Linked DNA regions of Homo sapiens. The protein of the gene in region 1 purifies or fractionates together with the protein of each later gene. This does not show direct contact. Each region holds a gene or a part of one and is shown on either strand. Other genes may lie near its edges.

Region 1 (4,203 bases):
TGAGAGTGAAAAGCTTTTAATTTTTGTATATTAGAATAAAAATAGTCTTTTACTTCAGGGACCCCAGGTGTCATATAAGACAGTAATTTCAGAATTACTGTTCGAGATCACTTAGCTTAAATTTCTCAGAAGTCAGACATTTTTCTTTGCATTTATTCTTCAGGGTTTTTTGTTTTTGTTTTCTCGTTTTTTTTTTTTTTTCCAAGGCAGAGTGTCTCTCTGTCACCCAGGCGGGAGTGCAGTAGCGCAATCTCACCGCAACCTATACCTCCCAGGTTCAAGTGATTCTTCTGCCTCAGCCTCTCAAGTAGCTGGGATGCAGACACGCGCCACCACGCCCAGCTAATTTTTTGTATTTTTAGTGGACATGGGGTTTCGCCATGGTGGCCAGGCTGGTCTCGAACTCGAGCTCAAGTGATCCACCGGTCTTGGCCTCCCGAAGTGCTGGGACTGAAGTGCTGGGACTAAAGGCGTGAGCCACCGTGCCCAGCCCTCAGTTGTTATTTAAATAAATCATAATCATTTAAATAAATAGAACCTGCATAAAGAGGTTTGGGAATAGGCACAGCTGTTGGCATGGGAACCCTCAATGGTGACAGCAGGTGGTGGGGTTGGGGGGAGGTTGGCCACCTGGCGAGGGGCCTGTTGGCTGCAGGGAGGGACTGGAGACCTGGGGTCCTTGAGCAGTCCAGTGGCGCTCAGCTAAGAGAGCTGCTGAGTACCATCTCCATTCCCGAGATGCTTGTGAAATGTGTGAGGAGCTATGCATGTGTGGAAAGTCAGATGCAGGATGGCCTTCCTGAAGCTGCAGTAAGTGGAACAGAGGAGGGGTACTGGGTGAGGCCAGAGGAGGGAGTGGCAGGAGGTGACAGAGAAGGCTTCTTGGGGAGGGACTGAGCCACATCTTGAAAGCTAGGAAGCGGGAGAGAGAGCAGGGTCCTGGTAAGGAGAGCCGTGTGAATGCTGGTGGGATGGTACACGTGGCCCAGAGTGGCTGAGAGGGAGCAGCAAGTGAGGTAGCTGGAAATGTACGTTGGGTCTAGGAGTCTTGAATGGCTCGGGTGTCTAAGGTACGAGTGTTCTCTTGGAACTCAGAGCTGTTTCCATATCAGAGACTTGCCAGCAGCCCTCTGTCTTGGGGTGCAGCCTGCCAGCCTGCTCTTTTTTTTTTTTTTTTTTTTTTTGAGACAGGGTCTCACTCTGTTGCCCAGGCTAGAGTGCAGTGGGTATGATCTCAGCTCACTGAAACCTCCCCTCCTGAGCTCAAGCGATTCTCCCATCACAGCCTCCCAGGTAGCTGGGACTCCAGGTGCACACCACCACACCTAGCTAATTTTTGTGTTTTTAGTAGAGATGGGGTTCCACCATGTTGGCCAGCCTGGTCTCGAACTCCTGACCTCAAGTGATCCACCCGCCTTGGCCTCCCAGAGTGCTGGGATTACAGGCGTGAGCCACCGCGCCTGGCCAGCCTGCTCTTATCTGGAGCAACTCCATGGCCCCACGTCCATGTCCTCTGTACCAGTCCACTTCCTCCAGCCTCCTGCCACCTTCCTTAGCCCTCAGAAGCATCTAGCAGCCTCCTTTCCAGTCTGAACACAGCCCTTAGAAGTCTCTCCCAGAAACTGTAATAGATGTGATTAACTATACACAGAATTCCCCCAAACAATTGTTTGGTATTTTTGTCGACTTTATTTCCTTCTGATTATTAAAAGTAATGCATGCATATTGTAAAGTGCAAAAAAGTATTTGGGGGAAAGTCGATAATCCTGCTGCAGTCTCTCTTTACATATTGGCATATTTCCTTACAGTTGTTTTTTTTTTGGGGGGAGGGGATACAATTGGCTATCTACACCCATCTTACCTCGACATCAAAATTTCTCCCTAAGCATTTATTCTGCCTTATGGCTGTATCTTTTTTTTTTTTGAGACGGAGTCTCACTCTGTTGCCCAGGCTGGAGTGCAGTGGCACAATCTCGGCTCACTGCAACCTCCGCCTCCCAGGTTCAAGCAATTCTCCTGCCTCAGCGCCCCCTAATAATAGCTGGGATTACAGGCATGCACCACCATGCCCGGCTAATTTTTGTGTTTTTAGTAGAGGTGGGGTTTCGCCATGTTGGCCAGACTGATCTCAAACTCGACCTCAGGTGATCTACCCGCCTTGGCTTACCAAAGTGCTGGGATTACAGGCATGAGCCACTGCACCCAGCCATGGCTGTATCTTAGTTTGCTTAACCATTTCCTTTTATTTTAAACTTTTCTTTTGAACTAATTTTAGATGTACAGAAGAGTTGCAAAAATATAGCAGAATTCCTTTATATTCCTCACCCCAGAGTATAATTATATAATCAGGAGCAGGAAATCAACATTGGCATAACACTGTTAACTAAACTGCAGGCCTTATTTAAACGTCACCAATATTTTCACTAATGTCCATTTGCTGTTTCCAGGATCTGATATGGGATCCCACACTGTTTAGTTATTTCTCCTTAGTTTGCTGCAATCTGTGGCAGTCTCTCCCTCTTTTCTTGCTAGAATGTTGGAACGCAAAGTGATGTTGCATCCTTTAGAGGTATTCATCATGTCACAGTTTTTTGTTGTTGTTGTTAATTTTGAGACAGGGTCTCACTCAGTGCACAGGCTGGAGGGCAGTGGTGTGATCTCGGCTCTCTGCAGCCTCCACCTCCCAGTTTCAAGCAATTCTCCTGCCTCAGCCTCCCAAGTAGCTGGGATTACAGGCATGAGCCACCACACCTAATTTTTTTTTTTTTTTTTTTTGTATTTTCAGTAGAGACAGGGTTTCACCATGTTGTCCAGGCTAGTCTTGAACTCCTGAGCTCAAGTGATCCACCCACCTCAGCCTCCCAAAGTGTTGGGATTATAGGCGTGAGCCACTGCACTCGGCCATGTTGGAGTATTTTTTTACTGGTGACATTTATCTAGATTGGCTGGTGTCTGCTTGATTTCCACACTGAAAAAAGGTGGGTTTTCTGTTGTTGTTGTTTTACAAAAACTGAATGGGGCCAGGCACGGTGGCTCACACCTATAATCCTAGCATTTTGGGAGGCCGAGGCAGGCAAAGGCCGACGTCGGGAGTTCAAGACCAGCCTAGCCAACATGGTGAAACCCCATCTCCACTAAAAATACAAAAATTAGCCAGGCATGGTGACATGCACCTGTAATTGCAGCTACTCGGGAGGCTGAGACAGGAGAATCGCTTGAACCTGGGAGGTGGAGGCTGCAGTGAGCTGAGATGGAGCCACTGCACTCCAGCCTGGGCAACAGAGTGAGACAATGTCTGGGGAAAAAAAAAATACTGAATGGATAAACTGAAGAAGTTATCTTTCTTTCCCTTTGTAGTTTCAGGAGATACTTTGAGACTATGCAAATCCTGTTTCTCCTTGTACTTTCATCCCCTAATTTTAGCACCCATCTGTAGACCCTGCTTGCAACAATGATGACTGTGATGTTTGACTAATGATTCTCTATTTCCCTCTTGTACATTTATTTATTGGAATTCTTTGTAAGCAAGAGCTGGCCCTGCTTCCCCATTTATTTATGCATTTGGTTATTCATAATCAGATTTTGTTCTGTGGGTTAAAGTTGAATAATATTTTTTGAGGCTCAAATTGTTCTAGCTTTGACCATTTTGGGAGCTCCTTCCGGTTGTCTCCTGTGTTCTTCTGGTAAGCCCCTGCCATTTTTTTTTTTAAGTGTTTCCTTAATTTCCTTTACTACAAAATATTCCAGGCTCATCTTGTAACTTCGCTGCCCCAGCCCTAGAGTCAGGCACTTCTCCACGGAGTCCTGCTTTCCTTTATTGGAGAATGCTGTTTAGAAACCAAGGTCTGGTTGCTAGGTATGTTCATTGCTACAGCAGTTATCATTGCTTCTGGGTCCTCTCAGCAGACAAAGCTAGGAAACAGATAATTCAGCACCTATCTGTATATATGTATGCTAAAGAATATGAGTTTGTACTGATAACGCTTATTCTGATCTAACCTCAAAAAGTTCGTTTTATTTTAGTCTTTCCCTTTTCATGATGACTTCTTTCTCCAACAGTGAAAAACCCTCTCAGTCATTTTCTTAGTTGGGGTGAAGGTTATTTTCCACTGGTTTTGCTCCTATTATCGTGGCCCTGATTAACACACATTTCCACATGTGGACTATAGATTATTTGACTCAACTCGCCTTTGAGATGATAAC
Region 2 (4,203 bases), on another chromosome or scaffold:
ATCAATTTCAAAATGTGCTGGGCTGTAAGCTGGCAGTCCATTTGCAGTGCTTCATCTTGGGTTTAGCAAAGATGTTTTTAATTTCTCAGGTCGCTGGACAAGAACGCTGAGGACTTCTTTCTGCTGCCCCATCTCAATATAAAGGGCTTTGTCAAATGCCATTTTACAAGTTCACTAGCATGTTTTAGTCTCCACTACAATGGGGCCCAAACTTTTGGTGTTAGGGGAGGAAGGGCCAGGTTTCTATACCAGAGCAAAGGTCATTAAGTTTGGAGAAACACCTGCTGTGAAACCAGTGAAGTGGTTTGCAGCTCCCTGGGGCTTGTGCTGTGAGAAGTGTATTTCCATCTGGCAGCTGTGGGGAGGCCTCATGAGGAAGGCATTAGTAAGTTTATGGGCAGAGATTGGGAACTCGACTATTCTGTAGCAGCTCTTCCCCTTTAGAAAGCAATCACCAAGGAGCAGCCTCTAATGTCACACAATCACAGGGCGTTGCCTCAAGGAGGGGGCTGTCCCATCATTATCATGACTCAGCCCATCATCTTAGTTTTGAAAGTGGAACTCGCAACACTGCTGTCCCCAGTTGTGTACTTGTCTTTGTCTTCACCCTGGAAGTGGACTACTTACCTGTGAGCTGTACTGGCCATCTCCAGATGTGGGACTCGGACACAGCACGGACAGGCTTTTGTGTAGGGGTGTGGCTTCTCTTCCGTTGTTTGGGATTAGCCCTGCATTTAATTAGGGTCTTTGTAAGTGTTCTAGAGGCTTTTCTTAGAAATCCTTCTCACACCTAGCTTTGCTTTGCTTTTTCTTTTCTTTTCTTTTTTCTTGGTAACTCACAGAACAACACCTAGCTTTTCTATCCTTAAGCAAAACCCACACATTCACAGAATTTCCCCAAGATTTCTTACATTTCTCTCTTAGGTGCTTCTCTCTTGTCCCTCTGCCTTTTACTTTTTTCCTTCTCTATCCCCTTGTCTTAATGAACTAGGGCTGCCATGACAAAGTACCACAGACTGCGTGGCTTTAAACAACAGAACATATTGTCCGTCAGTTCTGGAGGCCAGAAGTGCACAATGAAGCTATGGCCAGGGCCGTGTTCTCTCTGAAGGCTCGAGGAGAGGCCCCTTCCTACCTCTTCTAGTTGCTAATGGTTGCTGGCATCCTGGCGTTCCTTGACTTGCAGCTGCAGTACTGCGGTCACATGGCTGTGTTCTCTCTGTCTTCACGTCATCATCCCCCTTGCGCTCTTCACGTCATCATCTCCCTGCACGTGTCTGCCTCAATGCAAGTTTCCCCCACTTTTTTTTTTTTTTAGTGAGATGAAGTCTCACTCTATCACCCAGGCTGGAGTACAGTGGTGTGATCTCGGCTCACTGCAGCCTCCACCTCCCGGGTTCAAGAGACTCCCGCCTCAGCCTCCCGAGTAGCTGAGATTACAGGCACACCCTACCACACCCGACTAAGTTTTTGTATATTTAGTAGAGACGGGGTTTCGCCATGTTGGCCAGGCTGGTCTCAAACTCCTGACCTCAGATGATCTGCCCCCCTTCAGCCTCCCAAAGTGCTGAGATTACAAGCATGAGCCACTGCACCTGACCAAGTTTCCCCTTTTTATAAGGACACCTGTCATATAGGATCAGGGCCTGCCCTAATGACCTCATTTTAACTCAGTTTTCTTCATGAACACCCTGTTTCCAAATAAGGACAGATTCTCAGGTACCACTGGTCAGGACATTAACATATCTATTTTGGGGGGACAGTTCAACTTAAAACACCCCTCAATTCAGTCTACAATCGAAGGTTGGTTCCATTCTTGAATTCCCCAAATGGACACAAAACCCTTTACGTGAGTCACTGATTGGTGCCAGAGTTTGTGTTCTCCATGCCTCACGACAGCCCACTGTTCACCTACTGATGGGCCCTCCTGTGCCATTAGCGTTCAGTTACCACGTAAGGAGGCCCCCCACTCTTCTCTGCTTCTGCCAGGGAGAGGAGGTTGGGGAGAAGCAGGAGGCACACTTGAGCATAGCCTTGAGCCTCCCGGGTGCAGAGCCTGGTCCCCGCCTCCCTTCCTGGAGTCACCGTCAGCTGGGGTGGGGGCCAGGCTACTTCCTGCAGCGGCTTGACAAGCAAAATGCAATGTGAGGTGATAAACATGGAATCTGAGACAGGGCCGTGGAAAACGGTTTTTTGTTGAGCGTCGGGGCTGCCCTGTTAGTATTCCTTTTATAATTTTGTGACTGCCATAAAACTGTTTAGGGGTCCCACAGCATGGAGATCTTTTGTATTAAACAGCTTTCATAAACCCTGAATGAGTTCCAGATTCTGAGACTCCGGAACTTCAGTCCCCCTCCTTTTCTTTCAGTGGTTATGTGTTTTTTTTGGGAGTTTTTTTTCTCCCTTTGTTGAGGTATAATTTACATAAAGTAAAATGCTGTTCTCTTAAGAGTACAGTTTGGTAAGTTTTGACAAATATGTACAAAAAATCCCATGTAACTACCAAACAGATTCAGACATAGAATATCTCCATTTCCCCAGAAAGTTCTTTTGGGACCCTTTCTAGTCAACTACCCCACTCCACCTCAGAGACAAAGAGAAATCAGAAGAAATCTGATTTCTATCACCATGGATCAGTATTTCTTTTAAAAGTAATTTTATATCAATGAAATGCAGCATGTGCGCTCTTGCATTTGGCATATTTCCTTCAATATAAAGTTTTTGAGATTCTTCCATGGTTTCGCATGGATCAGTGATTTTTATTATCTTTTCTTGCTAAGTATTCCTTTGTGTGGATGGCCCACGTTTTGTTTATTCTTTCTTCTGTTGATGGTCAGTTTTGGCTATTATGAATCAAACTGCTACAGATGCTTTTGTGTAAGTGTTTTTGTGAACATGTGTGTTCATTTCTGTTGGATATATACCTAGGGGTGCAATTGCTGGGTCGTAGGTTAGGTGTTTGTTTATTTTATTAGGTGCTTGATTATGGCCCTCTTAAAAGGGGGGAATCAATCCCATTTGTAAGCCTCCTGTTCTCTGCTTAGAAGATTTTTCCGAAGCTTGTTAGCTATAGAACTGCATTACTTTGTTTTAGAAGAAAATACTATTATGGGCACTGGTTCTCACTTTGGATTTGTGTAATTTTCTGCTGGTCCTGGGCCCCTGGCTTTTGTTAAAGGTCTTTTCTTCAGGACCTGCTCAACTGAGATTCCCTTAACATGCAGGGTCACTACTGACTTTGAGTCCAAACCAGCAGGCCTATTCATGCTGATGAAAAAAGGGAACAGACTTGCTTGCTAGCCAGATAAGCTTTTAGTTGTCCAGCAAGAGATCTGTACATTTATTCATAATTGTTCTTTTTTGTGTGTGTGATAAGGTCTTGTTCTGTCACCCAGGCTGGAGTGCAGTGGCACTATCATGGCTCACTGCAGCTCTGACCTCCCCAGACTCAGGTGATCCTCCCACCTCAACCTCCCGAGTAGCTGGGACTACAGGCATGCCCACCACACACAGCTAACTTTTGTATTTTTGGTAGACACGGGGTTTCATCATGTTGCCCAGGCTGGTCTCTAACCTCTGGGCTCTAGCAGTCTGCTGGCCTTGGGCCTCCCAAAGTGCTAGGATTACAGGTGTGAGCCACCGTGCCCAGCCTGTCATTTTGTTTTTTGCTGATTATTTAGTCAATGCCATAGAATGTTGGGAATCCTTCTAGATTATTAAGACCCTGGGCTCTAGCATGCAGTCTGCCCATTGCTGATACCAGCAGACCTCATAGTCTGGTTCTGGTTCTCTGGGTACTCAGCAGCACTGAGGGTACATGTGGGCCTTCTGATTGGGCTCTGGAGTCTCAGTGAGTTGTTTCCTTGTAGGTCCTGTTTTGCTGCGTTCCTACTGTCTCTATGTTCTCCTGCTTGCCATCAATGGAGTGACAGAGTGTTTCACATTTGCTGCCATGAGCAAAGAGGAGGTCGACAGGTGGGTAACCTAGCAGGTACACCTTTAATCATGGCCTTCAGCCAAAATGAAATAACTTGTCAAGCTTTTTGCTTTTCGTTCTGAACATGCATTTACAGATGGCTGTTTTAGAGGCAACACTTAGTCCACCAGTGTGGTGCTCCCCTGGGATCTCTGTGGCACCAGCATGGTTCAGCAAGTGCTCCCCACTGTAGGGCTGGGAGGCAGCAACTACTCTTTGCCTCCCCT
Region 3 (4,203 bases), on another chromosome or scaffold:
ACACCTGTAATCCTAGCACTTTGGGAGGCTGAGGCGGGAAGATCACTTGAGGTCAGGGGTTTGAGACCAGCCTGGCTAACATGGTGAAACCCCCTGTCTACTAAAAATACAAAAATTTGCTGGGTCTGGTGGTGCACGCCTGTACTCCCAGATATTGGGAGGCTGAGGCAGAAGAGTTGCTTGAACCTGGGAGGCTGAGACTGCACTGAGCCGAGATGGCGCCACTGCACTTCAGCCCGCGAGTTCAAGATGGAAGGTACCAGGAGGCGCCCCAGGTAGGCAGCACAGGCGCCTGGAGGCTGCACCTCACAGGCTCGCATGGGGAGTCTGAAGATGCTCCAAGCCCAGATCACCCCACAGGAGGTGACAGCAGGTTGGGCCTGTGGAGGAGGCTCTACCTTGAGGGGCCACATTGGCTTCCACACCCCTTCACTGTCTGGGCAAGCTGGCAAAGGGCCCTGAAACCTGCCGACTGGCATCTCTACCTGCCACACTGTGGGCCAGGGTGCTAAGTTCACGGCAGCGTCAGCTGCTGTGCACCCAGGCACAGTGCGGAGCCCGGCCGGACTCACTCTTTTCCTAACCACCAAGCCTCCTAGGGGCCCAGTGGCCTCATCCTCAACCCCTTGCACCATCTCCTCTCACTGAGGGCTATAGATGCCCCAGCTAACCTGTCCCCATCCCTGCCCCACAACTGTCCACAAAGCCAGGCCATGCCCTCCTCAGCCTCCAGGGCCCCAGAACCTGCCTCATTACCTTCAAGCCCTCCAGCACCGGGGCAGTGTCCTTCAAGGTCTCTGACTGCAGGACTGTGTCAGGCATTTCTGGCTGTGGCTCGGTCCCCGGCCTTTGGGGAGCAGCTACCACACGTTCGGGCTCAAAATCCTTCTGAAAGGCAAGGCGACACCAGCCCAGCGCCCGCCATCACACAGAAGCAGTCTTCTTGCTCCCCGAAGCTCAGAACATATGGCAGAGGCCACACTGGGAGCAGGCCTGCAGGTGACATTGGGCAGCACACCTGCCACAGAAGGTCCCTAGGGAGGCTCCATGCAGCTGCCAGGTCACCTGGGGCCCTCTCCAGAACAGGCTAGAGCACCTTATCCATCTCTGGTCTCCCCAAGACTCCCCCAAGCTGCCCTGTCACTTGCAGAGCAGGAGGCTGAGCCTGTGGGTGGGCACCATGCATGTGACCCAAGAGGACCACAGGGCCCGCGTTGAAGAGGAGCCCAGAGGCTGGGGGAGCCTGCAGCTCCTCTGCCAGCGCCCCTCACAGCAAGTCCCTGAGGAGAGGGTGGGCACTGCCATATGCTAAGCTTGCCCCTCTGAGACGGCTAAGGTATATCTCCCATGAGCACCACTGTGGCCATCGGGGAGTCCCCATGTCAGAGTTGCAGCCCTCACACCCGGGCACCCTGCCTCCCTGACCACTCCAGGAGGAAATAAACATGCAGGACAGAGCTGCAGGGCAAGCATGCGGGAGGCCAAGACTGTGGGCGTGCGGGGGTTTCTAGGGAGGCTGGCTCAGGACAGCCCCACGCGGCACGGAGCAGGACCACCGCTTACCGCCACCTCCGAGCGCTTCTGCAGCTCCTTCTCACGGTGCTCCTGCTGGATGGCCGCCTCCTCCTGCAGCGTGGCCTCCAGCTTGGCCTTGTTGTCCACCTGCTCGCCCTCCACCTCGGCCACTTTCACCTGTGCTTCCTTTGCCTTCAGAAGAGGGTACATCTGTGGGTGAGCCCAGAAGCCACCAGAGGCCCCTGCTGCCCCTCACCTCTGTCCTGTGTCCTGTGTCCCCTGCCCCGTCACCACCTGGGCTTCACACACACAGGACAGAAGGCACTGCCGAGGTGCTGCCCGCAATTGCTGGGAGGCCCCTGGGCCGCCCTCTGCGCTCGCCCGATGACTCCTGACATGTGGGAAGGAGCATAGGCGCTGCTGACACAGCTCCAAGGGCCGCGGCCCAGATCCACAGCAGCCAACACGTGGCCAGGTCGGGACCACTGGCAACTGTGCCACACGGGGGATGGCAGGCAAGGGGCTGGTGAGGAGGGATGGAAGGAAGGGGACAGGTGGCTGGGTGGGGGCACTCGCGAGGGGGTGGGAGGCAGGCTCCTCGCCCATGGTTGAGGAATGAGTGCGCTTGCACACCTCCCCCCACCCCAGAAGAGCGGAGCCACCTATGAAGAGATGAGGTAAAAGGGGTCTCCGACAGCACGTACCACAATCTCTGGGAGGGTCTGCAGTGTGGACTTGAGCTGGTCGGCTGGAGAGAGGGTGTCCGGGAGGTACATGGCCCGGGACAGGATGAGCAGCGATGTGGGGATCTCCTGATGCAGGTGCAGGTCCAGCCACTGCAACCAAGGCCAGGTTCAGCAGATGGGCAGCCCCCCAACCCTGCTGGCCCCACAGCAGGTCCGCCCATCTCATCACCAGAATAGCTCTCAGAGAAGACAGTGTCTCAAGTTCTACAAGGTCTGTTTGTTGCTGTGCTGCGTGACCCGATGACGGCGTTAGTAAACAAAACACCAGAGAGGCTTGGGGGTCAGCAACCCCCACAGCGAGGACCCCAAGGGCCTCAGAACAGGGCACCAACTCTTCACTTAAAAACACCCCAGGGGCCGGGCGCGGTGGCTCACGCCTGTAATCCCAGCACTTTGGGAGGCCGAGGTGGGCGGATCACCTGAGGTCAGAAGTTCGAGACCAGCCTGGCCAACATGGCGATCCCATCTCTACTAAAAATACAAAAATTAGCCAGGTATAGTGGTGTGCACCTGTAGTCCCAGCTACTTGGGTGGCTGAGGCACAAGAATTGCTTGAACCAGGGAGGCGGAGGTTGTTTCAAGCCGAAATCGCGCCACTGCACTCCAGCCTGTGTGACAGAGCAAGACTCTGTCTCAAACAAAGAAACAAGACCAGCCCAGGTCAACATATACGGGCCCGCAGAGGCAGTGTCACTGAGGCCGGTCAGCACTCGGGCCCTTGCAGGCTCTGCACAGGCCAGGTTCCGGGGCTGGCTGCTTGAGTAACACCAAGACAATCTCCAAATGGGCAAGAAAGACCGTGACAATGTTTAGAGACAAACTGAACACGGGGCAAAACATGAGAACAAACCCTAAGAGAAGAAAGGCAACGCTGAGGAGAAGTGGGTAGAGAAAATATGAGAACAAACCCTAAGAGAAGAAAGGCACCACCGAGAGGTGGGTAGAGAAGGAAAAGTGTGAACACATGACACTCGGGCCCCCAATGCGCCACACTCCCCTGGGGGCCGAGGGGCCTGGGCAGGGACAGCACCTGCCCCCCTGCTCAGACACCCCTGTGTGTGTGGCCCATATCCCCACGGAGCTCCAGAAGGCTGGGCAGAGTGCTAGGGAGGTCAGCACCCATGCCAGACACAGAGAAGGCTCTGCTGGGGAATCCGATGGAAGACGCGGCTGTGGAAGGCAGGGGGTGCCACAGGATCACGCCATAAATACTGTCTGTGTCGAGAGGAGAAGTGTGTACACACACCTTCATCTACACTTGCAGGTTGTGTGAAAAACCCGGGAGGAGGATGACTGCCAACAAGGGCATGCCAGTGCCAGGGCACCGGGAGGAAACCGGCTGGAGCCCTGCACCCCTTAACCTTTCCATGTAAGAGTGAGTGGCTGGGGCTGTCACTTTCCGACCTACAAGCCACTCAATTTGATGGCATTGGGAACCAGGCACCAGCACAGGGCGTGGCCAAGAGAAGGGGCGGCTCCAAAGTCAGACCGTGCCATGCCACCCAAACCTTCCATGGCCCCAGTTCAGAAAGAGTCAAAATGTGAACACGTCCGACATCTCAGAGGTGAACTCCAGTCCTCATCTGACTACAGATAACCAAAATAGTAAGTTATTAAGGTCTTTAAAATCAACTAAAAGCAAACAAGAAAAATCAAAGCAATATTCAAAAGGCAATGAAAGGTGCGAATGCAGGGGTGTGAGTGCGGTAGGAGCAGAAGGGCGAGAAACAGCCCAAACATCCTGGCCGTCCCCAGAGAGGTCACAGTGTCGCCTCGCCAGGCCGGCCCAGAGTTTGGGAAGAGCCTCCGAGTGGCCTTTCGAGGCTGATGTTTCCCTTGAGCCCGTGCCGGCCTGGCACCAGGCCAATATTCACGCACCTGCTTCAGCTGACCCCTCAGGCGGTCTTCCGTGACGCCCAGGGCCCGCATGCCTCGTGCCCGA
Region 4 (4,203 bases), on another chromosome or scaffold:
CCTCCCAAAGTGCTGGGATTACAGGTGTGAGCCACCGTGCCCTGCCCCATCTGTGCTTTTGCTCACAGTTTGGAGAAAAATTGTTAGGGGATTATATCTCTACCTGAGTAGTTAGCTGAGGAGATTCCCACCCACCCTTAGGGGTTTTTGGAAATCTCTGAGGGTGATCTTGGCTGTCCAGTGAGAGCATGATGCTGGCATTGAATGGGTGTCAGGGAACCAGTTCAGTCCTTCCTGCCCAATGAAGGATTGTCCTACCCCCAAATGCCAGTCATGATCCCATGACACAACACTCTTCTAGGGCTGGAAGGGATCTTCTATCCCAACTCCCATGAACCAGGAACTCGCAGAGAAGCCTTTCTTCTGAAACACTTCTCAGACTTTTCCCCGTATTCGTTTTTTTTTTTTTGAAAGAGTCTCACTGTGTCACCCAGGCTGGAGTGCAGTGGCATGATCTTGGCTCACTGCAACCTCTGCCTCCCTGGTTCAAGCGCTTCTTGTGCCTCAGCCACCAGAGTAGCTGGGATTACAGGCGTGCACCACCAGGCATGGCTAATTTTTAGTAGAGACGGGGTTTTGCCATGTTGGCCAGGCCTCAACTGATCTGCCTGCCTTGGCCTCCCAAAGTGCTGGAATTACAGGTATGAGCCACCACGCCTGGCCTCCCCATATTCTTGAACTCTTACTGGATTCCAGTTTCACAACCCTGCTGGTGACATTTGGCTGCTGGTACTAAATCCATACATGAGGTGAATGCTTCTGTTTTGTATTTGTGCATTCATCCCTCTGCCTAGTTTAGATTTCCAGTTTAGCAATTTCACCTAATACCATTGAGCTTGCAGACTTGTACTGGCTTCACCCACTCCTGTGGCACCATTTTACCCTCGTCTGTGTTGCTGAGGTGGTAGGTCACCAGTTGAACTGGAAAATCTTTTTGTGATGCAGCAACTTTTGGTTAAACGTTTTTTCTGGGTTTTCATCTGTGGCAGTTACATTGCACATCTGGTTGCTCCAGGTTGGATTGTGGGCATGTGGGGATAGGCTTAGAACCTAGATTTATTTAAAACTTAGGGCAGACACACTGAAGTATTAATAGTGCATGTTTTTCAGTGGGGGACTATGGGCAATATTTTCCTCCTTTCCTTTAGGTTTTTTTGTGGCGTTTTATTTTGTCATGTCACGATGTATCTTGGCTTTGGCTGTTGTAACAGAATACTACAGATTGAGTGGCTTAAACAAACATTTCTCACAGTTCTATGGTCTGAAAAGTCTAATATCAAGGTTCCAGCAGATCTGGTGTCTGATGAGGGCTTGTTCTTAATTTGAACATAGCCGTCTTCTCACTGTGTCCTCATATGGCAGAGAGTGAGCGAGCTCTCTGGCCTCTTCTTCTAAGGGACTAATCCCATCACAATGGCCCTATCCTCATGACCTCATCTACACCTGATTACTCCCAAAGGCCCCATCTCCTAACACCATCACCTTGGGGGGATAAAATTCAGTCCATAGCGCTGTGTGTAATCAAAAGAATATGGTTGTTGCAGTCAGGAAGACCTGGGTTCACATCCTAGCACTGCCACTTAGTAGCTGTGTGACTGGCCACATTATGTCATCTCTAAGTGTCACTTCCCATAGGGAACTGGGGTGCTGCTGTCTGCTTCATAGGGTTGTGGGATCCTTAGATGAAACAGCACATGCAAGTTTCCTTCCTTTCATCATTTTTTTTTTTTTTTTGAGACGGAGTCTCACTCTGTTGCCCAGGCTAGAGTACAGTGGCACAATCTCAGGTCACTGCAAGCTCTGCCTCCTGGGTTCACGCCATTCTCCTGCCTCAGCCTCCTGAGTAGCTGGGACTACAGGCACCCACCACTACGCCCGGCTAATTTTTTTTTTTTTTTGTATTTTTAGTAGAGACAGGGTTTCACCATGTTAGCCAGGATGGTCTCGATCTCCTGACTTCGTGATCCGCCCGCCTCGGCCTCCCAGAGTGCTGGGATTACAGTTGTGAGCCACGGCGCCCGGCCCTTTCATCATTTTTTTAGACATGGAGGTCTCTCTTTGTTTCCCAAGCTGGAATGCAGTGGCTGTTCACAGATGCAGTCATAGCACTGTAGCCTAGAACACATGGGCTCAAGTGATCCTCCCACCTCAGTCTCCTAAGTAGCTGTAATCACAGGTTCATGCCCTCACGCCCGGCTCCTTACCCTGCTTTATCACCAAAGTGCTGTCTGTGTGGTGAGTGCCAAAGGAATGAAGAAACTGAGGGGTAACTGTCTGCTTGTGTGCTTTCAGTGATCTGCAGAATGCAGCCGCCGGTTCCTTCGCCTCTGCCTTTGCTGCACTGGTGCTCTGCCCCACGGAGCTCGTGAAGTGCCGGCTGCAGACCATGTATGAGATGGAGACATCAGGGAAGATAGCCAAGAGCCAGAAGTAAGCACCACTTGGGCACAAACGTCAGGTCTCTATTGCCCTAGTGTATTGGATGATTTTTCATTTTACATTGTACTAAAGTGGCAGATGTGGAAGCCAATTTATCTACTCCAAAATATTGTTTCTAGAATGCTTTCCCCTATCAGAGATTTTCTGAAAGGATTGGCTGTGATGGGACCCACCACCCACTGCATAAAAAGTCTTAGACAGATATTTAATACCCCAGAACTGGAGAAGCCAGGAGCTTAACACCCTTTTTGGCCTCTTGGAAACATAAGGCATGATCTTCAGCCATTTTTGGAGGTACATAATGGGTGGCTTTTGAACTTTGCCTTAGACCTGAGCCTTCATAAGTGCCAATTTGGATTCTGAGATGAATATTTGATCCCCACTTCAGGTTTCGTATGGGTATTCAGGCTGATTGACCCAGATCCTAGAGGTAACTATTCTTACCCCACTTATCCCCAGTCCTTCAAGTGTACCTGCAGATGGCCCAAGTTCTGAGAACATTAATCAATACTTTTATAAGCATAGCTACTCTTCAGTGATTAAATCACTCTCTAGCTCACTCTTGAAAACACATTCTCATTATCCTTTGAGAGTACTGTTTCATACACAATTTGATTTACTTGAATTGGAAAGCAATTTATTATCCTTATTAATTGCAAAACTTGCTTACTTATCTTGACATCTGGCTGAGTTCTGACCAAGGATATTGCTGTGGTTAACTCAAAGCCTATAAATCTGCTGGGAAAAAGCAGTAGATAAATTGACCATTTTCAAGGATCAGTCCCCACTCAGTGAGAATGGGGTTTGGAAAAGTGCCCTATTTTCTGCACCCTTGAGATTCATTACAGCCAACTTGAATCTAATATTCATTGCCTAGAAGTCCAAGAGTGTAAGTCTTTAAAACTTTTTATTGAAATAATACACATAGTATCATGAATGCACATTGAAGTCACAGTATGCAGCTCTATAAATAGTGACACAATTTATGTGCCTTTGTAACCTGTGTCCAGATTAACAAATAGAACATTAACAACACCCAGAAAGCTGCCCTCATGTTCCTTGGAAGTAATTCAAGGTAATTAAAAGATAGTAATAGTTATATCCAAAGGACTTAGGCAGATCAACACCTTGAATTATCAGTTGACTTTGTATTTGAGGTCTAGCAGTGTTCACACAAGGCATGGTATGGTAGCTTGGGGCTAAGACTCGGATTGGAAGGGAGGTTAATTGTGTTGAGCTGGATTACTTTGTTACATTCCATGTAGCAGTGCTGCAGGAAGGGCTGGCTGATGGGGAATACCTGACAGTGTCTTCTGAAGCTCTCAGAAGGAAAATAGTTTTTAAATGTCTGTGGCCTTTATTACCTTGGGACTTGATCCTTCATCTGTCCAAGCCAAGTCTCCTTCTTGCTGAGAACAAAGTGAGGAGAGAGGGATTCACTAAGTTGCACTGAGTATGTGATTTCTTGGCCTGTTCTTAGCAGGGATAAACCTGCCCTGGTTGCCCTCAATCATGAAGGGGAGTCAGACAAAGAGTGTCCTGTGTTCTGGCTGCTACAGGAGCAGGGCTGCTTAGAAGAAATTCTCCCGCATCCCTGGTGCTCTGAGAAATAAATTCTTGGTGCTTCTGCATAACAGGAGCTATATAACTTGTTCTCAGAATTTGTCTTGTCTTCAGACAACATTTACTCCTTCACTCATTTCTCTGCACTAAAAACAGATCCTGTAAACACCTGAACAAATTTCCCAAAAACACACCAGAAAG
Region 5 (4,203 bases), on another chromosome or scaffold:
TACATACTAGGTGTATATATTCATGGGGTACATGAGATATTTTGATACAGGCATACAGTCCATAATAATCACATCAGAGTAAATAGGGTATTCATCACCTCAAGCATTTCTTCTTTCGTGTTGCAAACAATCCAATTATGTTCCTTTAGTTATTTTAAAATGTACAATAAATTATTGTTGACTGTAGTCACCCTGTTGTGCTACCAAATACTAGATCTTATTCATTCTATTTAATTATATTTTCATACCCATTAACCAACCCCACTTCTTGCTCATCCCCAGCTACCCTTCCCAGGTTCTGGCAACCATTATTCTACTCTCTGTCTCCATGAATTCAATTTTTAAATTTTTTAGTTCCCTCAAATAAGTGAGAACATGCAAAGTTTGTCTCTCTCTGCTTGGCTTACTTCACTTAACATAATGACCTCCATTCCATCCATGGTGTTGGAAACAACAGTTCTGTTTAAGGATGAATAGTATTCTACCATGTATATGTACCATATTTTCTTTTTTCTTTTTTGAGACAAGGTCTCACTCTGTCACCCAGGTTGAGTGCAGTGGTGTGATCATGACTCACTGCAGCCTTGGTCTTGCGGGCTCAAGCGATCCTCTCATGTCAGCCTCCTGAGTAGCTGGGACCACAGGTGTGAGCCACCATGCCCAGCTAATTTTTGTACTTTTTGGAGAGACAGGGTTTTGCCATGTTACCCAGGCTGATCTCCAGCTCCTGGGCTCAAGTGATCTGCCTGCCTTGGCCTCCCAAAGTGCTGGGATTACAGACATGGTCCACTGCACCCAGCCCACATTTTCTTTATCCATTCGTCTGTTGATGGACACTTAGGTTGCTTCCAAATCATGGCTATTGTGAATAGTGCTGTGATAAGCATGGGATTAAAGGTATCTCTTTGATATACGGATTTCCTTTCTTTTGGTATATATCTAATAGTGGAATTGCTGGATCATATGGTACTTCTATTTTTAGTTTTTTGTGGGGCCTCCAAACTGTTCTCCATAACGGTTGTAATAATTTACATTTTTCACCAACAGTGTACGAAGGTTTCCTTTTCATCCTTGCCAGCGTTTGTTATTGCCTATCTTTTGGATAAAAGCCATTTTAATTGGGATGAGATGATATCCTATTGTAGTTTTGATTTGCATTTCTCTGATGATCAGTGATGTTGAGCACCTTTTCATGTACCTGTTTGCCATTTGTATGTCTTCTTTTGAGAAATGCCTATTGACATCTCGTGACCATTTTTAAATGAGATCGTTAGATTTTTTTTCCTGTAGAGTTGCTTGAGCTCTTTATATAATCTGGTTATTAATTCCTTGTCAGATGGATGGTTTGCACATATTTTCTCCTGTTCTGTGGGTTGTCTCTTCACTTTGGTAATCGTTTCCTTTGTGGTGCAGAAGCTTTTTAACTTGATATGATCCTGTTTGTCTATTTTTTCTTTGGTTGCCTGTGCTTATGGGGTATTTTTCAAGAAATCTTTGCTCAGTCCAATGTCCTGGAGAGTTTCCCCAATGTTTTCTTGTAGGAGAGTTATAGTTTGAGGTCTTAGATTTAAGTCTTTAATGCATTTTGATTTTATTTTTGTATATGATGAGAGAGAGAGGTCTAGCTTCATTCTTTTGCGTATGGATATCCAGTATTCCCAGCATCAGTTATCAAAGAGACTGCCCTTTCTCCAACTTATGTTCTTGGCACCTTTGTTGAAAATGAGTTCACTGTAGATGTATGGATTTGTTTGTGGGTTCTCTATTCTGTTCCATTGGTCTATGTGTCTGTTTTTATGCCAGTACCATGCCATTTTAGTTACTATAGCTCTTATAATTTGAAGTCAAGTAATGTGATTGTTCCAGTTTTGTTCATTATACTCAGGATAACTTTGGCTATTCTGGGTCTTTTATGGCTCCATAGAAATTTGAGGATTGTTTTTTCTGTTTCTGTGAAGAATGCCATTGGTATTTTGATAGGGATTGCATTGAATCTGTAGATTGCTTTGGGTAATATGGGCATGTTAACAATATTGATTCTTCCAATCCACCCATGAACATGGAAAATTTTCTCATTGTTTGTACCCTTTTCAATTTATTTCATTAGTGTTTTATAGCCTTTTTTTTTTTTTTCTTTGAGACAGACACTTGCCCTGTCACTCAAGCTGGAGTGCAGTGGTACAATCTTGGCTCACTGAAACCTCCACCTCCTAGGTTCAAGCAATTCTCATGCCTCAGCCTCCCAAGTAGCTGGGATTACAGGCATGTGCCACCATGCCCGGCTAATTTTTGTATTTTTAGTAGAGACAGGGTTTCACTATATTGGCCAGGCTGGTCTTGAACTCCTGGTCTCAAGTGATCTGCCCACCTCGGCCTCCCAAAGTGCTGGGATTACAGGCATGAGCCACTGTGCCCAGCCAGTGTATTATAGTTTTCGATGTAGAAATCTTTCACTTCTTTGGGTAAATTAATTCCTAGGTATTTAATTTTATTTCCAGATATTGTAAACGGGATTACTTTCTTGATTTCTTTTTCAGATTGTTCACTGTTGGCATGTAGAAATGCCACTGATTTTTATATATTGATATTGTATCCTGCAACTGTACTGAATTTATTTATCAGTTCCAATAGTCTTTTGGTGGAGTCTTTAGGTTTTTTCGAATACAGATCATATCATCTGCAAACAAGAAAAATTTAACTTCTTTTTTTGCAGTTCAGATGCTCTTTATTTCTTTCTTTTGTCTGAGTGCTCTAGCTAGGACTTCTAATACTATATTGAATAACAGTGGTGAAAGTGGGCATCCTTGTCATAGTCTAGATCATAGAGGAAAGGCTTTCAGTTTTTCCCCATTCAGTGTGATACTAGGGCTGCGGGTCTGTTGTGTATGGCTTTTATTGTGTTGACGTATGTTCCTTCTGTAGCATTTTGTGAGGGTTTTATCATGAAGGAATGTTGATTTTATCCAATGCTTTTTCAGCATCTATTGAAATGTTCATGTTTGTATGGCTTTTGTCTTTTCTTTGAGATGGAGTCTCTCTCTGTCACCCAGGCTAGAGTGCAGTGGTGTGACCCCGGCTACTGCAACCTCCACCTCCAGGTTCAAGCAATTCTCTTCAGCCTCCCAAGTAGCTGGAATTACAGGCACCCACCACCACGCCTGGCTAATTTTTGTATTTTTAGTAGAGGCGGGGTTTTGCCATGTTGACCAGGCTAGTCTCGAACTCCTGACTTCAGGTGATCTGCCTGCCTTGGCCTCCCAAAGTACTGGGATTACAGTCATGAGCCACCATGCCAGGCCTGTCCTTCATTTTGTCAATATGATGTATCACATCGATTGATTTATGTATGTTGAACCATCCTTGCATCCCTGGGATAAATCCCACTTGGTCAAAGATCTTTTTAATATGTTGTTGAATTTGATTTGTAGGTATTTCTTTGAGGATTTTTGCATTAATGTTCATCAGGGATATTGACTTGTAGTTTTCTTTTTTGATGTGTCTTTGTCTGGTTTTGGTATCAGGGTAATACTAGCCTTGTAGAATGAGTTTGGAAGTATTCCCTCTTCCTCTATTTTTTGAATCATTTGAGTAGGATTGGTATTTATTTTTCTCTTAAACGTTTGGTAAAATTCAGCAATGAAGTCATTGAGTCTTGGGCTGTTCATTGCTGGCAGAGTTTTTATTACAGCTTTGATATCATTACTTTTTATTATGGCTTTGTTTTCATTACTTGTTGATCTGTTCAGGTTTTGGATTTCTTCATGTTACAATATTGGTAGGTTGTACATGTCTAGGAATTATCTATTTCTCTAGGTTTTCCAACTTATTGGCATATAGTTGTTCATAGTAGCCTCTAATAATCTTTTGAATTTTTGTGGTATTGGTTGTAATGTCTCCTTTTTCATTTCTGATTTTATTTATTTGAGTCTCCTCTCTTCTTTTCTTAGTCTGGCTAAAGGTTTGTCGGCTTTGTTTATCTTTTCAAAAAAGCAACTTTTCATATCCCTAATCTTTTGTATTCCTTCACTGCAATTTCATTTATTTTTGCTCCAATCTTTATTATTTTTTTCTTCTACTAATTTTGGGTTTGGTTTGCTCTTGCTTTTCTAATTCTTTTAAATGGATTCCTGTTTGCTTTTCTACTTTTTTGATGTAGGTGCTTATAGCTATAAAATTTCCTTTTAATATTGCTTTTGCTGTATC
Region 6 (4,904 bases), on another chromosome or scaffold:
TCCTGACCTCGTGATCCACCCGACTCGGCCTCCTAAAGTGCTGGGATCACAGGCGTTAGCCACCGCGCCCAGCCCAACACCTTTTCATTTATCTGTACAGCACATATTTCCTGAGGGCATCCTGTATACTAGGTCCTGAGGGCATCCTGTATACTACAGATGGTTCCCAGCATTGGAGTTTTCAACTTTACATTGGTGCGAAAGCAGATCTGCATTCAGTGGAAACTGTATTTCTCTTACAATGCTGGGCAGTGTCAGCAAGCCACAGCTTCCAGTCAGCCACACATTTTCAACTTACAGTATTTTCAACCTATGATGGGTTTATCAGGATATAACTCCATCACAAGTCAAGGAGCATCTGTAAACAGTAAACAGAAACCCAGGCACCGTGTTTGTGCTTAGGGAGCTTGCGATCTAGTAGGGGAAGATTGTCAATAAAACAATCACAAATATATTGGCTGGGTGCGGTGTCTCACGCCTGTAATCCTAGCGCTTTGGGAGGCCAAGGCGGTTGGATCGCTTGAGGTTAGGAGTTCGAGAGCAGCCTGGCCAACATGGTGAAACCCTGTCTCCACTAAAAATAAAAATTAGCCGGGTGTGGTGGCAAGCGCCAGTAATCCCAGCTACTTGGGAAGCTGAGGCAGGAGAATCGCTTGAACCTGGGAGGTGTAGGCTGTAGTGAGCCAAGATCGCACCACTGCACTCCAGCCTGGGTGACACAGTGAGACCCTGTCTCAAAAATAAAAAAAAAGCATATATATGTAAAGCAGATATATATATATGTGTGTGTGTGTGTGTGTGCGTGTGTATCTATATCTATCTATCTATCTAATTGCCACCGTGCCAAGTGATTCAAAGGAAGGTAGCTGATGTTATGAGAACATATAAACGGGTGGGGCGTGGGAGAAGGGGCTGAGAACACACTGGAGGGGAATGCAGAGACCACCTGGATGTCTGCTGCAATTAAACTGACAAAGTATGACAATTTGGGTTACAGCGGGAGCATGGCAGCTGGAGAAATGGACTGACTTGAGATGTCCCAGATGTTCAGATCTCCTTTTTCTCTCAGGGCACAGGCAAAAGGCAAACCCAAAGAGGTGACTTTGAGCCAGGAGGACCCCTTACTTTGATCTTAACAGAAACGGGGGTTTCCTCTGGTGCGTTATGTGTATCATTTATTGAACCACTACTATGTACTAGGACCGACCTTGTCACATTTAAAGTTCACAACTCTGGCCTGGCGCGGTGGCTCATGCCTGTAATCCCAGCACTTTGGGAGGCCGAGGCGGGCGGATCACGAAGTCAGGAGATCGAGACCATCCTGGCTAAGACGGTGAAACTCCGTCTCTACTAAAAATACAAAAAATTAGCCGGGCGTGGTGGCGAGAGCCTGTAGTCTCAGCTACTCAGGAGGCTGAGGCAGGAGAATCGCTTGAACCCAGGTTGCGGAGGTTACAGTGAGCCAAGATCGTGCCATTGCACTCCAGCCTAGGCGACAGAGTGAGACTCCGTCTCAAAAACAAAACAAAACAAAAAAAAAAGAAAAAAAAAGTTCACAACTCTGAGGTAGGTGTAATTATCCCCATTTCATGATGAGTCTCATAAAGTTTAGGTGATGTGCCCAGAATCACACAGGGTTGGAATCAGGATTAGGGCCCTGATCGGGCTGCATTCAAAGACCAGTTTGCTTCAATACATCATACTACGGTCCAAGACTTCTGCTATCCTGAACCCACTGTTCCTTCCTCTAGTCTAGTTTTCAAATTCGCAGGGACAAATATGGCCCTGAAGGCTCCATGAGCAGACGAGAAGGCTGGACTTCGCAACTGGGTCACCTTAGATCCGGAACTAGAGAATGACACCGTTGTTTCCGGGAGGAAAAAGAAAAAGCGCTTGACCCGGAAGCTGCGTGTCCCATCCCCGCGCCTGCTTCTCTGACTGGGGTGAGGCCGCAGCGGACTGCCCTTTCCCAAGATGGCGTCGAAGATAGGTTCGAGACGGTGGATGTTGCAGCTGATCATGCAGTTGGGTTCGGTGCTGCTCACACGCTGCCCCTTTTGGGGCTGCTTCAGCCAGCTCATGCTGTACGCTGAGAGGGCTGAGGCACGCCGGTGAGCAGGCCTACGCAGCCGCTAAACGCGGCAGGGGGCGGTGATGTGGGCAAGAAATTGGGGGCTAGAAGTCGGGACCCTTGAACTGGGAGGAATTGGGACCTCCCTGGGAGGGGTTCTGGTCTGGGTGTCGGACCAAATCTGGTAGGGCGGTCCTGCCCATGGGAGGGGAGTCTGGTTTGGGGGAGCAGTGGAGCCTGTGGGAACTCAAGGGGTCTCAAGCTTCTTCCCCCACCGCTTCATTCTGTCCTCGTTGCTTCCCCACTCCCGGCTCGCAGGAAGCCCGACATCCCAGTGCCTTACCTGTATTTCGACATGGGGGCAGCCGTGCTGTGCGCTAGTTTCATGTCCTTTGGCGTGAAGCGGCGCTGGTTCGCGCTGGGGGCCGCACTCCAATTGGCCATTAGCACCTACGCCGCCTACATCGGGGGCTACGTCCACTACGGGGACTGGCTGAAGGTGAGCGCCTCGGCCCCAAAAGGGTCTTCCCTCTGGGTGACGGGGAATCAGAGGCCAATGCCCAGGGCTGTTGGTGGGCGATGAATGGTGCTGGCCAGCTGCACAGTGTGAAGCCTGGGAGGTTCGAACCCCTTGGCTTATGGAGATTACAGAGCGCAGAAATGGATCTTAGAGACCACACAAACTTCCTCTTCAAAGTGTGGAAACTGAGGTCTAGAGATGGGAAACAGACTTTCCCAAAGCCACAATACAGGATACTGGTGGGACCAGAACCCCGGTCACCTGGTTCCCAGAATCTTTTAAACTGTTAGTTTAGTAATCTCAGACTCATGGGGTACAAAGGACCTTGGAGAGTACCTAGTTTTCATAAAATAAATTTTATGAAAATGTAATTACTGTTAGTATAGCATTTAAGCCAGAACCTGTGCCAGGCCCTGCAGGCTGGAGATAAGGTTGGACAAAGGCACTGTCCTTGAGGAAGAGACTGTCAGACCCTTAGGGGAGGAAGATGTGTGAACAGCTACAGGGCAGCAAGATCAATGTTTTTGTGGCATAGATCCCATGCCATGTAGAATAAAGAACACCAAGATTAGAGTCTACAGATCTGAGAGTGGGGAAGGGAGAAACACATTGTGTCTGGGTTCTGCCACTTACTGGCAGGTAGGACCTGCCAGTTTTCTTTTTTGTTGTTGTTTTTTGAAACAGAGTCTCTCTCCGTCGCCCAGGCTGGAGTGCAGTGACGCTGTCTCAACTCACTGCAACCTCCGCCTTCCAGGTTCAAACGATTCTCCTGCCTCAGTCTCCCAAGTAGTTGGGATTACAGGCGCCCTTCCCCACGCCCGACTAATTTTTGTATTTTCAGTAGACAGGGTTTCCTCATGTTGGCCAGGCTAGTCTCAAACTCCTGACCTCAGGGTGATCCACCTGCCTCGGCCTCCCAAAGTGCTGGGATTACAGGCGTGAGCCACTGCGCCTGGCCAGACCTGACAGTTTTCTTAACCCTCTGGGCCTCAGTTTCTACTTCTATATATATATAAAAAGAATGATCTGTCTCTGTTGCACCTGCCCACCAAGCTTGGAAATGTAAGAGGGTTCATCAGATGGAATGGGATGTGTAGAGAGGGGTGGTTCTACACTCTGGGAAGCCAGGAGAGATGTGGCGGCTGCAGTTCTTGACTGGGGTCCCCTTACCCCGGCCTAGGTCCGTATGTACTCGCGCACAGTTGCCATCATCGGCGGCTTTCTTGTGTTGGCCAGCGGTGCTGGGGAGCTGTACCGCCGGAAACCTCGCAGCCGCTCCCTGCAGTCCACCGGCCAGGTGTTCCTGGGTATCTACCTCATCTGTGTGGTATGTTGGGGGACTGTTGGTTGGAGGTGCCTGGCTGGGAGTGAACTGTGAGTCTAGGCATGGCAGAACCCCAGGAAGGTAGACACAGAACGAGGCCCTGAGTGCAGTTCCTGATGGCCCAGTTCCCTGGGAATTGCCCTGGCCAGCTTCTAGGCCTCAGGGGCCCTCCAAATGCCTGTTGAGAGGCCCTTCCTCCAACAGTGTTGCCACGAGGTAGACTGGCCATTAAATTTCAACCCTGAGAGCCAGGAGAACAAGATGGGGTGATTCTCTCATGGCTCCAGCCCCCAAAGGACTAGAAGGGGATAAAGGAGAGGTTTGGTGGGGGTCAGGCCCCAGCTGGGACTCTGCCCCCTAGAGCTGATGAGAGCTCTAGGGTAGCCACTTATGGTTCTCCCTGGTGCTAGGGGAGGCCAGGGTGACTGGAGACATGGACAGGCGCCAGGCCATTAGGTCTTATCTTAATTACCGAGTATATCTCTGTACAGCTCTCTGTGTGGGCTCCCATATTCAGAGGTGGGAGCTCTAGTCTGACTGTGGAAATACACTTCCTTCATAGCCCCTAGGGTGAGGGGAGACATGGGCCCTAATCTCCTGGGGCTCCATAGTCCGAGGGGGAGACAAAGGCCCTACTTTCAGAGGTTCCCCAGTCCAAGAGGGGAGTCAGAAGCCCATCTGCAGGGACTCATTTGCAGGTGCCATCTCAGGGGTGGTTTACCCCAGACAGGCTTCTGAGCCTGTTGGAGAGTCTTAGAGGATGTTATGTCTCCAGGCCTACTCACTGCAGCACAGCAAGGAGGACCGGCTGGCGTATCTGAACCATCTCCCAGGAGGGGAGCTGATGATCCAGCTGTTCTTCGTGCTGTATGGCATCCTGGCCCTGGCCTTTCTGTCAGGCTACTACGTGACCCTCGCTGCCCAGATCCTGGCTGTACTGCTGCCCCCTGTCATGCTGCTCATTGATGGCAATGTTGCTTACTGGCACA
Region 7 (4,203 bases), on another chromosome or scaffold:
AGAAAATACCTCACTATAATATATTAAAGTTTCAACAAAATATTTTAATCATATCAGTTACAGTCTTTTTTAACAGACTTTTATTTGTGTAAATTATAAATATCATAGGGGAGCATATATGCACAAACTAAGTAACCACCAAGTAGATAATAAATAAGAATTATAAGAAAGAGGGGAGATATTTTAGGCAGAACAATTTGATAAGAGGCATAAATATACAAACAAGCAAGATGCATGTGAGTGACAGGGAGGACAAAATTAACGGCAGCAGCGAACCATTTGGTTGATCTGTAAGTGGATAAAAAGGTGATGAAATATATTTAATTCATTGAGGCATGATAGACTACATTCCTGAACACAGGAATAAAGAAGATGATACTCACATCTTTTTCAAAATAATAAGCCACATCAGCTATGTCCACATCATTCTGAGTTTTTTGAGAAGAATTTTGAACCAGATCAATAGTGATAACATTATTCTCATACTGGGGAAAAAAATTGAATAATACAAATTAATACTAATATAATCAAAATCATTTGAAAATAACATTAATTGAGAATCAGAATATTCAGTGTTTGATTTTCTATAATCTACATGCATCACTGTTCCTTTCCATTAGTGGATAACTAAGTTTATCACTAATCAAGAAATCTTTGGGAGGTCTCTAAATCTATCAAAGGGAAATAAGACAGCCATGCAACCAAACATAATTACAATGTACAATTTTTCCTAAGAGGATTTTCTTATATTGAAAAGATTTTTAAATAAGATATGAAAGTATTTTATTTGGATTAGAACTACTTTAAAACTAAATTACTAAAGAAATGAAAGGTAAGGCCGGGTGCAGTGGCTCATGCCTGTAATCCCAGCACTTTGGGAGGCTGAGGTGGGCGGATCACCTGAGGTCCGGAGTTCAAGACCAGCCTGACCAACATGGAGAAACCCCATCTCTACTAAAAATACAAAATTAGCCAGGCGTGGTGACACATTGCCTGTAATCCCAGCTACCAGGGAAGCTGAGGCAGGAGAATCGCTTGAACCTGGGAGGCAAAAGTCGTGGTGAGCCGAGATGGCGCCATTGCACTCCAGCCTGGGCAACAAGAGCGAAACTCCGTCTCAAAAAAAAAAAAAAAAAAAGAAAAGAAAAAGAAATGCAAGGTAAAACGCAGCATGCATTTTCCATGTTGTTTTTTTGTTTTGTTTTTGAGACGGAGTCTTGCTGTGTCGCCCAGGCTGGAGTGCAGTGGCACAATCTCAGCTGACTGCAAGCTCCGCCTCTCAGGTTCACGCCATACTCCTGCCTCAAGCCTCCCGAGTAGCTGGGACTACAGGTGCCCACCACCACATTCGGCTATTTTGTATGTTTTTAGTAGAGACAGGGTTTCACTGTGTTAGCCACGATGGTCTCGATCTCCTGATCTTGTGATCCACCTGCCTCGGCCTCCCAAAGTGCTGGGATTACAGGCGTGAGCCACCGTGCCCGGCCATCATTTTGTTTTTAAAGAGTAAAAAAAGTACATTCTTTCTAAAGACTCTTGAATAAATTCATACTACCTTTAAAGAGTTCCGTCACACTATTCAAGCTTCTTTTTATTTTTTAAACCAGAGTTTAAAGAGTTAAGTAAGGGCTAACTAGTTAAGGACTAGTTCCTTAAAGCAGAGAAGATGGGAGCTCCAGTAACATCCTAAAGTAAATATGCACCAAAACTGTATTTACCAAAAGTAATTTTGGTGCATATTTACTTTAAGATGTTACTGGAGCTCATCCACAGGGACAGGTTCTCCAGGATAAGAAAACTCAAATGTTTTAGGGATACTAAGAGATACTACGTTTTCTTTAGGAGTAAAACTAGGCTTTTCAAAGGCTATGGAAGGAAAACAACGATAACCAAAAACAATGGGCCGGGCGTGGTGGCTCACACCTGTAATCCCAACACTTTGAGAGGCTGAGGCAGACAGATCACTTGAGGCCAGGAGTTCGAGACCAGCCTGGCCAACATAGCAAAACCCCGCCGACACTAAAAATACAAAAATTAGCTGGGCATGGTGACATGTGCCTGTAGTCCCAGCTCCTCGGGAGGCTGAGGCATGAGAATTGCTTGAACCTTGGAAGCAGAGGTTACATTGAGCCGAGATCTTGCCATGACACTCCAGCCTGGGGAAGAGAGCAATAGTCTGTCTTAAAGAAACAAACAAACAAAAAAAAACAGTAACAGGAAATTCACATTAAGTACCCAGATCCGAAACTGTTGCTCCAGTAAGTGCATTTAACCACCACTTAAATCACTGGCTGTCCTTATACTCAAAACATACTGTCTCACCAACTGTCTGCTAAAGCTCACTTATTAAAAAATCATACCAAAATACTCGTGATAAATTTTGGATCCAGTTGATAACGCGTTGTGATCTCCTTCTGAAGTGCACTGTAAAGAATTTAAAATCTGTATTAAAAAAAAATGTTTGTACCACACAACAGTAAGAAGCACTACTCTTTAAGCAGACAGCTCAGGGTCTAAAACTGTCATTAAAGTTAAAATTTTTCTGCCATTTTGCAACTATCATAATAATAATTGATTCAGGCTGGAATCATCCATTGATATTCAAACTGCTGGGTACCAGTTTAATTAGAAAAAGAACATTTACTTAGTATCCAAGTATCTGCCCATAGATTATTTATGGATTACAAAGGGAGAATGGTAACTTCACAGTGGAAAAACCTGGTGGATACCACTTTAACCAAAGTTTACTTTACTAGTAAAGGGACAAGCTGACATCATGCAACTCCTAATGTGAAGTATTATAAAGGACACAAGATCGCTTAAGTAGTTTTCCTGTCAAAAATGCATAACCTGCTTTTAGTTAAGAGGGAACATCAAGGCTCGGGTGAGGTGGCTCATGCCTGTAATCCCAGCACTTTGGGATGCTGAGGTGGGCAGATCACCTGAGGTTGGGAGTTCGAGACCAGCCTGACCAACGTGGAGAAACCCCGTGTCTACTAAAAATACAAAAAAAATTAGCCAGGCATGGTGGCGCACGCCTGTAATCCCAGCTACTCAGGAGGCTGAGGCAGGAGAATCGCTTGAATCCGGGAAGCAGAGGTTGCGGTGAGCCGTGATTGCACCATTGCACTCCAGCCTGGGCAACAAAAGGGAAAACTCCAACTCAAAAAAAAAAAAAAAAAAGGAGGAAATATCAGACAAATCAAAATTTGAGGGACATTATATATAATGACTTGCCCATGCTCTTTAAAAATAGCAAGTTCATGGAAGACAAAGAAAGGCCAAGAAACTGTTCGATATTAAGAGACTAAAGAGTCATGACAACTAAATGTGATACATGGATCTTGGACTGGGTCCTGAATCAGAGGGGAAAAATTACTACAAAGGACAATATTGGGAAAATGGGCACAACGTGATATAACGTTAAATTTCCTGGCCGGGCGCGGAAGCTCACACCTGTAATTGCAGCACTTTGGGAGGCAGAGGCGGGAGGATCACAAGTTCAGGAGTTCGAGACCAGCCTGGCCAATATGGTGAAACCCTGTTTCTACTAAAACTACAAAAATTAGCAGGGCGTAGTGGCAGGCACCTGTAGTCCCAGCTACTTGGAAGGCTGAGGCAGGAGAATCGCTTGAAACCGGCAGGCGCAGGTTGCAGTGAGCTGAGATCACGCCACTGCACGCCAGCCTGGGTGACAGAGCGAGACTCCGTCTAAAAAAAAAAAAAAAAATTTTTCCTAAATTTGATCGTTGTATAGTGGTTTATATAAAAGAATGCCTTTTGTTCTTAGGAAAACATACACTGAAGTACTTAGGGGTAAAGGGGCCTGATGTCTACAACTTGCTCTCATGTGCTTCTGGGAAAAATATTTATACATGCATAGATACACTGATGTAAAGCACACACACATATTCATCCACACATACACATATAAAAAGCAAATGTGCCAAAATGTTAATTGGTGAATCTGAGTGAAGTGTATTCCCAGAATCTCTGTGCTATTCTTGCAACTCTATTTCAAGTAACTTTATTTTTCAGAAATATAAAAAAGCATTTAGACTTGCTTTTTCTAATGGTGTAGGATGGAAGATTTGAGCCACCAACTGTGCAAGAATATGATGCATTTAATTGCACTTACGTCCGCAAACTTTTACTATCATAAGGTTTTTCTCTTGCTTTGTGTTTTAGTTCAATGATGATCCA

Evidence for each region.
Region 2: the proteins of SLC39A14 (region 1) and RFT1 purify together in Homo sapiens (affinity purification with mass spectrometry; one large-scale study listed by BioGRID and IntAct). This does not show direct contact.
Region 3: the proteins of SLC39A14 (region 1) and LETM1 purify together in Homo sapiens (affinity purification with mass spectrometry; one large-scale study listed by BioGRID and IntAct). This does not show direct contact.
Region 4: the proteins of SLC39A14 (region 1) and SLC25A15 purify together in Homo sapiens (affinity purification with mass spectrometry; one large-scale study listed by BioGRID and IntAct). This does not show direct contact.
Region 5: the proteins of SLC39A14 (region 1) and C3orf33 purify together in Homo sapiens (affinity purification with mass spectrometry; one large-scale study listed by BioGRID and IntAct). This does not show direct contact.
Region 6: the proteins of SLC39A14 (region 1) and TMEM101 purify together in Homo sapiens (affinity purification with mass spectrometry; one large-scale study listed by BioGRID and IntAct). This does not show direct contact.
Region 7: the proteins of SLC39A14 (region 1) and EPCAM purify together in Homo sapiens (affinity purification with mass spectrometry; one large-scale study listed by BioGRID and IntAct). This does not show direct contact.

Annotation. Positions count from the first base shown.
Region 1 is NC_000008.11:22,373,580-22,377,782, forward strand, and holds part of SLC39A14 (metal cation symporter ZIP14 isoform a precursor), read left to right. Parts: intron 1-4,203. UniProt on the Homo sapiens protein: Electroneutral transporter of the plasma membrane mediating the cellular uptake of the divalent metal cations zinc, manganese and iron that are important for tissue homeostasis, metabolism, development and immunity.
Region 2 is NC_000003.12:53,099,153-53,103,355, reverse strand, and holds part of RFT1 (man(5)GlcNAc(2)-PP-dolichol translocation protein RFT1), read left to right. Parts: intron 1-89; coding exon of another isoform or gene 90-142; exon of another isoform or gene 143-161; intron 162-3,869; coding exon 3,870-3,975; intron 3,976-4,203.
Region 3 is NC_000004.12:1,821,425-1,825,627, forward strand, and holds part of LETM1 (mitochondrial proton/calcium exchanger protein precursor), read right to left. Parts: coding exon 4,140-4,203; intron 2,352-4,139; coding exon 2,220-2,351; intron 1,708-2,219; coding exon 1,564-1,707; intron 889-1,563; coding exon 757-888; intron 1-756. UniProt on the Homo sapiens protein: Plays an important role in maintenance of mitochondrial morphology and in mediating either calcium or potassium/proton antiport. Mediates proton-dependent calcium efflux from mitochondrion.
Region 4 is NC_000013.11:40,802,826-40,807,028, forward strand, and holds part of SLC25A15 (mitochondrial ornithine transporter 1), read left to right. Parts: intron 1-2,292; coding exon 2,293-2,430; intron 2,431-4,203.
Region 5 is NC_000003.12:155,796,005-155,800,207, reverse strand, and holds part of C3orf33 (protein C3orf33), read left to right. Parts: intron 1-4,203.
Region 6 is NC_000017.11:44,012,023-44,016,926, reverse strand, and holds the start of TMEM101 (transmembrane protein 101), read left to right. Parts: upstream 1-1,963; 5' UTR 1,964-1,974; coding exon 1,975-2,111; intron 2,112-2,389; coding exon 2,390-2,570; intron 2,571-3,771; coding exon 3,772-3,918; intron 3,919-4,690; coding exon 4,691-4,904. UniProt on the Homo sapiens protein: May activate NF-kappa-B signaling pathways.
Region 7 is NC_000002.12:47,375,235-47,379,437, reverse strand, and holds part of EPCAM (epithelial cell adhesion molecule precursor), read right to left. Parts: coding exon 4,139-4,203; intron 2,425-4,138; coding exon 2,361-2,424; intron 1,764-2,360; exon of another isoform or gene 1,668-1,763; intron 486-1,667; coding exon 384-485; intron 1-383.